3 linked regions of the Homo sapiens genome follow. The protein of the gene in region 3 purifies or fractionates together with the protein of the main gene of each other region. This does not show direct contact. Each region holds a gene or a part of one and is shown on either strand. Other genes may lie near its edges. The genes, in order: DCLK1, KIF18A and FBLIM1.

Region 1 (3,657 bases), on a different chromosome or scaffold from region 3:
CAAAGATAGTGTGCTCAAAAGTATAATCTGGTAAACTCTGAATGACTAGCAAATCATGCTGTACATATAATCAATTTTTTTTTTTTTTTTTTTTTGAGACGGAATCTTGTTCTGTCACCCAGGCTGGAGTGCAGTGGTGCGATCTCGGCTCACTGCAAGCTCCGCCTCCCGGGTTCACGCCATTCTCCTGCCTCAGCCCCCTGAGTAGCTGGGACTACAGGCGCCCACCACCACACCCAGGTAATTTTTTTTTTTTATTTTGAGTAGAGACGGGGTTTCACCCTGTTAGCCAGGATGGTCTCGATCTCCTGACCTCGTGATCCGCCTGCCTCGGCCTCCCAAAGTGCTGGGATTACAGGCGTGAGCCACCGTGCCCGGCCCTAATCAATGTTTTTTAATTCAACTCACCATCAAGGTTCTGTCAAACCTGTACAAAAATAGTCCACCCAAGACAATAAAAGGTGATGCTTCCTTTGGGTTCATCTGACCAACTCACATTAAAATGACCACCCATCCAAGTCAACTGATGTTCATTCTGTAGCTGAAAAACCTCCCTTTCATTTTAACACTGAAAAATACAAGATGCGTACTATTCTAGAAATATGCCTTTAAAGCTATCCAGATGGAAATATGTCATTTCTTAGATACATATTTTAAAATCTATAAAATGTAAGTAAATCTCACTAGCGAACACTACAAAGACTTAAAATCATAAAATATTTAGGTCAAAGAAATAAGTTAGAATTTTCCCTACTGGTCAGAGTTTACTTTCACACCTCAGTCATTCATTCTTCAGGCTATAAGATCTATGAGAAAACTGAAAACAGATGACAGAAAAGAATCATTATGTTAAGCAAATAATAAATGAACAAGTAGAAATCACTGAGTAATTATTTAATCTTCAAAGATATGCATTTTTTTCTTACTTTATTCCTATGAATAATCCTGCTCAACTCAAACTTCTGACTGTTCTAGGGCCAGCAAGTACATATTTGTTGATCAAGTGACCCAGGCCCTTTAACAACTTGAGCAAAATGTATGCTTTAGCCACGTACACCCTCCGACTCCCTGGTTCTTGCCTTAAAGTCAAAGTCACATCACAATATGTCTCTTACCTGTTTCCCATCCAACGTGTACAGGCGTTTCACCACTCCCGAGTCCAGCTTGATGGCATCGGTGATATCGGTGAGGACCTGCTCAAAGGAATGAGCCGTTTTCTTGTTCAGCAGAATCCTGACAGCTTTCCGTGGCTTCACGCCACTTCTGATGATGGTGACCAGCTTGGGCCGAATGAAATCCTTATTCTCTCGCACCTCTGAAGGGCTTCCTTTGGCAGTGGCCAGTGAAGACACTGCCCGAGAAGCCGAGGTGGTCTTGACGTTCACCGACCAGTTGGGGTTCACATTCTTGGTGTACTCCAGTTTCTTGAAGGGCTCTATGGAGCCACATACATAACTCTCTCCTAAGGAAGAGAGAAATATATTTAAATTTATACTAAAATATGCCCATTTCTTTTTTCCTACTTATCCTCTCTTTTGCCTTTTCTGCTTAGGGGCAAGAGCTAGCCCTGACTTTTCAAACAATGGAAGTGTGATTAATAATTAGGGAAAAAGAAAGATTTCTGATTGCTAATCTGGCACTGTCAGCAACAGATCCACATCCTGGAAAAACAAAACAAAACATTATTCCTCCATTTCCTCATCTTAAGGTCGGTGATAGAAATGCTGATCTACTTGAAAAGACCTTAGAGAAGTGTGAAAGTGAATTTAAAATAGAAAATATTCTTTGGGAATTAGAGATACTTAAATCTGCAGAAAATTTCAAAATTGGAAGTACCTCCATTTGCTACCTGAGATAATTTAAACACTAAGAATGAATCAGAATACAGCATCTTAAAATAGTCATATAATTTACGAATTTGATGAGAGTTGATGCTAAAGATTTTGTAAAGCCCAGTAAAGTTCCAAAAGCAAGCAAATAATCACCCTTCCTTTCTCTCATCTATATAGTGCCAATCACAGTGATCCACACATACTATAAGGTCAATTCATACTTGTTCATAAGTAAGAGGTTTTAGAAGTGTTCAACATACAAACTACAGCTTCAAAAATGGGCTCTAAAATAAATATAAGTAAATGTTTATTAAAAGTGACTCCTTAGCAGGAAATCTTTTAATGAAAATAATCAGACTATTAAGTAGATGTAGATCACACACACAAAAAAGAAAAACATGAACCAAGAGACAACAAATTGTAAAATGACGAATTCTAAATACATATTTCATAAAGTTAGGTCAAAGCCTTTTGAAATTAAAGATTTTGTAATGGCTTTTTTTCTGTGTTAATAAGTTTTTGTAACTAGGAATAGGTAAAAATGCTGAAAGACCTTCATAATTGTAGGTAAAATGACCGAGGCCTAATCTAACACAGCCCATTGACTTTTATCTAAGTCCTTGTATTATTTTTAAATTCACAGTGCAAGCATCCAAGGCCAAAGAATAAGTAGTCACATAAAAATAACTGAAGCAGGCCTTCAAAAGTTAAAAAGAGCAGTTATACATGTTACTGAACACTTGTTTTGCAGATGTTCTTAAAATATTCTCTAATGTGTATACATACACATTATGCCTCACTAGAAGTTGTATGAATAGTGCAAGTTTAACCAACCCCATTTCTATTCACCTGGCAGATCATGACTTGTCTCAGCTATGCCTTCCTCAGGATTTAAGTAAATATCAAAAACTTATATGTATTTTTGATATTTTCTTAAATCCTGAGAAAGGCATATTTGGGTACTATAGAAACAGCAGTGTTTTGGGAGTTTTCATGGAGTGATGACCTGCACATGATAGTGGGAAGAGAGAACTGGAAATTCGGGCTCAAGACCTGGCCTCTCCAAGCATGTGACTTTGGACAAGTCCCTCAGATTTCTGGGTGGTAGTTTATTTATCTATAAAACAAAACCTCATTAGGTTTTTCTGAAGATCAAATTAGAAGATAGAGATCAAAGTGATCTCAAATACAAACCTGCTATGTGAGTGAAAATGACCTGAGGCTACATACCCTAATCGTGCAGTAAGCCTGAAAGAAAAATTCAAAAACAAAATTACTAGAAATCGGTAAGCAGGTCTTATATTGAACAGTTACCAGTGGACACCACGTTGGGTCCATGTCAATGTGAGAATGCCCTAACACTCCCCAGTGAGACACACAGCATGTAACTGAGCTGGCAAAGCTAGCCTCTGTCAGAATTCTGTGCTAACTGAAGATATGCAATTGTCTGATTATTTATAAGTTTCTATACTAAGCTAATAACTAAAAGCAAAACAAAGATACAGAGAGCAGTTTACATTTCAACAAAAACTTTAAAAATATATTAAATTAGAAGAGGGAGCAGTTTTAAAGAACATAGCAACATGGAGTGAGTTTGTTAAAAGAGAAAATAAACACTTTTTAAAAATATCTTCTTAGATAAAGCACCCTGAAAATGTTTAAAAGCATAAGAAAGTTCTCCAGTTACACTGAGAAGGCGTTGCTGGTTTGGTTCAAGCAACAATGATCAGAAGAAATATGTGTTTAATCTGAGCTGTAAATGTGAGGCTCCTCTGCTGGATAATCAGATTTAAAGACTGGAATGAGAATCTTAGAGAAGGATGTG
Region 2 (3,657 bases), on a different chromosome or scaffold from region 3:
ACAAGGAGCTATAGATTCTTGAGTGTAGAGTAAGAAAGAATAATGGAAATTTTGTGGATGCAATGAATTTGATCTGGGTCCTGAAAAACAGCAATCCTTCCTAGTCCTAAAGAGGATCAATTTTTAACAGGTAGGATTGGGGGGGGTTGGGTGGAAAAAGAACATCCTTCCACGCTGATTCAAACAACCTAAGCTTAGGGAAATTCTGGCTAATAAAGATACTATATAGTAATCCCCCTTATCGACGGGGGGGATATCTTCTAAGATCGCCAGTGGATGCCTGCAACCGAGGATAGTATCAAACCGGATATATACTATGTATTCTCCTACACATATCTATGATAAAGTTTAAATTATAAATTAGGCACAGTAAGAGATTAACAATAATAATAAAATAGAGCAATTATAATTATAATTATTATAAGGTTATGTGAATGTGGTCTCGCTCTCTATTAAAATATCTTATTGTTCTACAATCGCCTGTTTTTGAACTGCGGTTGACCATGGGTAACTGAAACCACAGAAAGCAAAACTTGAATAAGGGGTGACTACTCAGTGGAAGTAATGAAAATGACACAGTTTAAGAAGATAAAATCACAAATTTGTATGCACAAATATTATATCAACTACAGTAGTCCCCACTTCTTAAATGGTGATAAATTACTATGATTCTGTTTTGCATATTAAACACACTTTTGTATATATCAGCTGTCCAAGGCAGAAATTCTTTTTTGATCATTTGGTGATTTTATTTTTTCAAATATAAAGATCAATATTATTAGTTACTTTTGATAAAACATTGTTTTTTCTTAAATTTATCCCAAAGTTGTCTTTATTATTTCATAGTACGATTATGCATTATGGCTAGTTCCAGGACCCTACTTTTTACTCATAGCATGTTCTTTCTTGAAAATTAGGCTTTTGAATAAAGCCATTTGATTAGAACTCATATTTCTAGAAATCAAATCCAACCCTAATAAATTGCGTATTTATATAAAAGTAAAATATACCCAAACATGTTTACGATTTAGTTAAATAGTCCACTGATGAAATGTTTAACATTTATGTTGTAGGTCATAAACTACAAAGACTTAAAACTGATGAGCGCAAGTTCAAATTATGTTAAAGGCTATACTGAAAAATCCAAAGACACTTCCAGTTGTGCACAAAACATATTCCCATAACTATAAATAAAGTTAAGAATTAACCTTTTGCTCCCTTATATAGGTAGAATGTTTCTACTCAACATAATACCTCTTCTACTATTTTATCTGAAATAATTTCTAGTTGAAATAATTAGACATCTTTCAAAACAAAATAAAAGTGTATGGCAAATATGAAACTGCTTTGGGGTGCTCAGAAGATTGTGGACAAACAAAAAACCAATCAACCAAACAAATACAAAACAAACAATCCAAAACTCTGATTAATATAATTGAGAAGTAAAAGCTAACATTATGTATGCATTATATTTAAATATTTGATAGGCTAATCAATTTAGTAAAATAGTGTGCTAGAGAAATATTAAATAAATTGTTAAGATTAAAAATCTAATATACTCAATTATTTAAACAAATCTGTTGGGTAGGTTTTGGAATATCCAGTGCTTTCAAACTCTAATGCCATTTTATGCAAAATAAATGAAATACATATATAGAGAGCTTCCCCTTCTTTATTTTAAAAACTATATTAGAATATATACACAACTAAATATGTATATAAAGCTGCTAAATGGAAAATACCACAGTTTATTACTCTGAAGCGCATGTAACTTTAATTGGGGAAAAAGAAGATTAAAAAAAGTAATCATGTACATTTCTAGCATTAATCTCTTTTAACCTTAGTTAATGGCAGGATCTAATTACTGGTACCAGAGGGAATGTAATAGAACAATTAATAGGCTATAAGAAATCAAGTTACTTTCTTTACATGTCCTTTAATATTATTTCACAATATTAGTTGTTCATGTGGAAGCCCTTTAACTTATCTAAAATCACTCCAAATACACAATTCACATACCTGGACATTTCCTGAAAAACTATTTGATTTTATAATAGCTAAGTTCATATTTAAAAATTATTCTTATCTATAAACATTTGTGACATCTTAGTAAACACAACATACTACCAGTGAAGGACAAGAAAACTCACTAAAATTAATTAATGGAACAAATGACAAAACTGACACTATGCAAATTAGTGATAAAAGTAGACGAAACAGATGATTGTGGTTAGCTAGGCTCACTCATAAAGTGACAGACTTCTGTATATAAACCAGAATAATTGTACAAATCAAATTTGTACCTTAGCAAATATAAAATTTTAAATGTCATAGATGAGACATTTAGGAAAAATCCATAAATTTTAAATTTACACATTCCAAGTCTCTGTTATACTTTGTTTAGGAGGGACAAGGACAGATATTAAATTCACTTATGAGAAGATACTCTATGTAGCACAAATAAGTAGGCTACTTGTAAATTCGCTTCCTGTTACTTAAATGATAACAGGCTCCTGGTGGAAAATACATTTAAAAAGAGTCATTTTAAGGTCTTCTATAAACTTTTCTCCCCATAATCACATAGCAAAGAAAAAGAGGTAGAGGAAGTCAGATCCATTTTATATTTATTGAGTATATTTGTCATTGCATTCAATTTATAGGATATAAAGAATGCATCATGAACTTCTAGTCATATAACTCAATATATTTAAGATTTTTCCTTATCTTTAGTTTTTAGTTGTTTTACTACTATATACCTAGGTATGTTTCTCTTTATATTAACCCGGCTTTTGGTTTGCAGTGCTACTCAAATCCATGGTTTAATGTCTTTTGTTAGTTTTGAATAAGTATTAGCCATCATCTCAAATATTACTTTTCCCTATTCTTTCTCTCACTCCCTTCTGAGACACAAAATACATATTTTCTAGACTTTTAAAAATTGTGTCCCATGTCTCTTTCACTTCTTCCCATATTTTTATCATACTGCACATCAGTTTGGATATTTTCCTACCAGTCTATCTTTCAGAAAAAATTCCAAAACCTGAACAAATGAATAATAAGTAACAAAATCAAAGTCATAATAAAGTCTCCCAGCAAAGAAAAGCTTGGAATTTGATGGCTTCACTGCTGATTTTTACCAAACATTTAAAAAAGAACCAATACCAATCTTACTCAAACTATTCTGAAAAACAGAGGCGGAAGGAATACTTCCAAAATCATTATATGAGGCCAGTATTACTCTGATACCAAAACCAGACAAGGACACATCAAAACAAGAAAACTCCAGGCCAATATCCCTGATGAACACATGCACAAATCCTTAACAAAATACTAGCAAACTGAATCCAATAACAAACCTGAAAGATCATTCATCATGGCCAAGTGGGATTTATCCCAGGGATGCAAGATGGTTCAACATATGCAAATTAACCAATGTGATACATTGTATCAATAGAATGAAGAACAAAAACCATATGATCATTTCAATAGATGCTGAAAAAGTATTTGATAAAATTCAACATCCCTTTATGATAAAAACTCTCACCAAGCGGACTTAATAGACGTCTACAGAACTCTCCACCCACAATCAACAGAATATACATTCTTTTCAGCACCACACTGCACTTATTCCAAAATTGACCACATAGTTGGAAGTAA
Region 3 (3,657 bases):
CATCCATTTAATTTGTATTGCTTTAGCCTTTTTCCCTTTATACCTAAATTCTATTTAAAATGTTAGTCTGCAGTTTGCTATGATAGCAAAAATGTCTTGAATTTTTTCTCACTATTTTATTTTCTGAACACCTAATGCCCTCACACAGTGCAAAATAAACAGCATGAGTGGGGACACAGTGAGAAGCCTGCAACCTGCCCCATCCCCCTACCACCCGGTTTCCTTCCAGATGGGTGTCCTCTGTCATTGAGCTCTCATGTATCCTGCCAAAGACACTATGCACATACGAGCAAATACAAATATGTGTCCACCTGCTCCCTCCCCCCATTTTTCCATAAGTAGCAAACTAGGCTCTTCTGCTGTTCACTTTCTTTCCTTCGTACATCTCAGAGCTGGTCACACATCAGAATATAAAGTGGCTCCTGGCTGAGCGTGGTGGCTCACGCCTATAATCCCAGCATTTTGGGAGGCTGAGGCAGGTGGATCACCTGAGGTCAGGAGTTCGAGATCCGCCTGGCCAACATGGTGAAATGCTGTCTCTACTAAAAATACGAAAGTTAGCTGGGTGTGGTGGTGTGTGCCTGTAATCCCAGCTACTCGGGAGGCTGAGGCAGGAGAATCTCTTGAACCCAGGAGGCGGAGGTTGCAGTGAGCTGAGATTGCGCCACTGCTCTCCAGCCTGGGTGACAGAGTGAGCTTCCGTCTCAAAAAAATAAAAAAATAAAATAAAATAAATAAACAAAGTGGCTCCTGGCTGGGTGTAGTGGTTCATGCCTGTAATCCCAGCACTTTGGGAGGTCAAGGCAGCCAACAATCCCTTTGTCCTGAAACTGCTGTCCAGAATTCCTTATTTATTTATGTTATTTATTTTTATTTTTATTTTTTTAGACAGAGTCTTGCTCTGTCACCAGGCTAGAGTGCAGTGGCGCGATCTTGGCTCATTGCAACCTCCACCTCCTGGGTTTAAGCGAGTCTCCTGCCTCAGTCTCCTGAGTACTGGGACTACAGGCGCCCGCTACCACGCCCAGCTAATTTTTGTATTTTTAGTAGAGACAGGGTTTCACCATGTTGGCCAGATGGTCTCGATCTCTTGACCTTGTGATCCGCCCACCTCGGCATCCCAAAGTGCTGAGATTACAGGTGTGAGCCACCGCGCCGGGCTCTTTATTTTTTTTAATTTTTATTGTTTTTCCTGAAACAGAGCCTCACTCTGTTACCCATGCTGGAGTGCAATGGCACAGTCTCGGCTCACTATAACCTCTGCCTCCTAGGTTCAAGTGATTCTCCTGCCTCAGCCCCATGAGTAGCTGGGACTACGGGGGCATGCCACTATGCCCGGCTAATTTTTGTATTTTTAGTAGAGATGGGGTTTCACCATGTTGGCCAGGCTGGTCTTGAACTCCTGTCCTCAAGTGATCCGCTCACCTTGGCCTCCCAAAGTGCTGGCATTACAGGTGTGAGCCACCATGCCTGACTCAGATTCCTTTTTAATGCTCCTCATGACCCTCTGTATTTGTCATTTGAGGAATTTGCAGGGTTTAAGACAGAGCCTCGGGTATCCTGAGCATGTTCTGGGTGGTGCCTGGGTACAGTCCTCACAGGCTGGGCTGGTGATGGCCTGTGTCTCCCCTACCCCAGACATCTGTGCCTTCTGCCACAAGACCGTGTCCCCCCGAGAGCTGGCTGTGGAGGCCATGAAGAGGCAGTACCATGCCCAGTGCTTCACGTGCCGCACCTGCCGCCGCCAGCTGGCTGGGCAGAGCTTCTACCAGAAGGATGGGCGACCCCTCTGCGAACCCTGCTACCAGGTAACCCCTGCAGCAGACCTCTGGGTGCCAGGCAGTGAGCTGAGCACTTAGAATATGTTGCACCATTTCATTCCCCACACAGTCCTGGGAAGTAGGCACTATTGACCCCTTTCACAGATGAGGAAACTGAGGCTCAGAAAGAAGGAGCCCAGTGAAGGCGATTGGTTTCCTAGGGCTGCCTGTAAGAGATCACCACAACCTTCGTGGCTTCCAGCAGTACACGTTTATTCTGTCCCAGTTCGGGAGATCAAAAGTCCAAAATCAGCTTCACTGGGCCAAAACCAAGGTGGTGTGCTGTCTGGAGGCTTGAGGGAGAACCCACATCTCTGCCTTTTGCAATTTCTTTTTTTCTTCTTCTTCTTCTTTTTTTTTGCGGTGGGGGACGGAGTCTCACTCTATCGCCCAGGCTGGAGTGCAGTGGCACGATGTCAGCTCACTGCAACCTCGGCCACCCAGGTTCAAGGGATTCTCCTGCCTCAGCCTCCCGAGTAGCTGGGATTACAGGCACCTGACACCACACCCGGCTAATTTTTGTATTTTTGGTAGAGATGGGGTTTCACCATCTTGGCCAGGCTGGTCTTGAACTCCTGACCTCGTGAGCCACCCACCTCGACCTCCCAAAGTGCTGGGATTACAGGCATGAGCCACTGCGCCCAGCCTGTTTTTTTTTGTTTTTTTTTTTTTTTAAGATGGAGGCTCATTCTGTCACCCCAGCTGGAGTGCAGTCGTACAATCTCAGATCACTGCAACCTCTGCTTCCCGGGTTGAAGCAATTCCCATGTCTCAGCCTCCTGAGTAGCTGGGACTACAGGTGCCTGCCACCATGCCCAACTAATTTTTGTATTTTTAGTAGAGATGGGATTTCACCACTTTGGCCAGGCTGGTCTCAAACTCCTGACCTCAAGGAATCCACCCCCTCGGCCTCACAAAGTGCTGGGATTACAGGTGTGAGCCACCGCACCTGGCCCCTTTTGCAGTTTATGAAGCTGCATTCTCCTTGACTCCTTCCTCTGCTTCAAAGCCAGCAGTGTAGCATCCCACTTCAGCGGCCCTATTGTCACCTCTGTGTCAAGTTACAGGGACACGCGATGGCATTTAGGACCCACCTGGATAATCAGGATAATCTCCCCCATCTTAAGATCCTTAGCTCATCCCATCTGAAAGCCTCTTTTGCCGGGCAAGGTAACATTCGGGGTCCAGAGATAAGGACTGGATATCTTTGGGGGCATCTCTTAGCTACCACACGAGGTCACACGAGATGGCCAAGGAGCTGGGATTCTACTCCACACCCATCTGGCTCTGGAGCCTGCCATCAGTCTTGCCACTATCTCCCCTAGAGTAGAGCCACAGGGTTCCAATGTTTGATCTCACGGGAATCTGTGTTGCTTCCGGGTACCAAGTGCAATCTGGGAGAGCCAGCTGGGATGCCAGCACACTGGAATTTCTAACTCTTGGATGGTTTGTGGTGGCATGTTGAGTGTGGTGACCACCCACAGCCGCATCCCCTGGGGATGTGTAGGCCACTCTTTGTGCTTATGAATGAGGAACACCTGGAAATCAGCATTTTGAATCAGTGTCTCAAGTGATTCTCATGCATATAGAAGTTTGAAAACGGCTGATTTGAAGGGTTAGAGTATTTGGAGCTGAGACTCTCCAGAAGAATCCAAACAATCCAATCCCAGGCTCACCACCAGTGAGGCACTGTGGGAAGAGAGAGGAGCCAGGCCCTCCCTGCCGTGTCCCTGTGACCCCATCAACATCATGGGGGAGTGTTCCTCAGGGGTGAGACACCAGGGGAGGAGGGGTGTCCAGCTGGAAGCAGGAAGCAGCCAGGAGGAAGACTTGAGCA

The links.
Region 1: the proteins of FBLIM1 (region 3) and DCLK1 purify together in Homo sapiens (affinity purification with mass spectrometry; one large-scale study listed by BioGRID and IntAct). This does not show direct contact.
Region 2: the proteins of FBLIM1 (region 3) and KIF18A purify together in Homo sapiens (affinity purification with mass spectrometry; one large-scale study listed by BioGRID and IntAct). This does not show direct contact.

Annotation. Positions count from the first base shown.
Region 1 is NC_000013.11:36,110,754-36,114,410, forward strand, and holds part of DCLK1 (serine/threonine-protein kinase DCLK1), read right to left. Parts: intron 1,463-3,657; coding exon 1,116-1,462; intron 1-1,115.
Region 2 is NC_000011.10:28,024,625-28,028,281, forward strand, and holds part of KIF18A (kinesin-like protein KIF18A), read right to left. Parts: intron 1-3,657.
Region 3 is NC_000001.11:15,768,771-15,772,427, forward strand, and holds part of FBLIM1 (filamin-binding LIM protein 1), read left to right. Parts: intron 1-1,638; coding exon 1,639-1,808; intron 1,809-3,657. UniProt on the Homo sapiens protein: Serves as an anchoring site for cell-ECM adhesion proteins and filamin-containing actin filaments. Is implicated in cell shape modulation (spreading) and motility.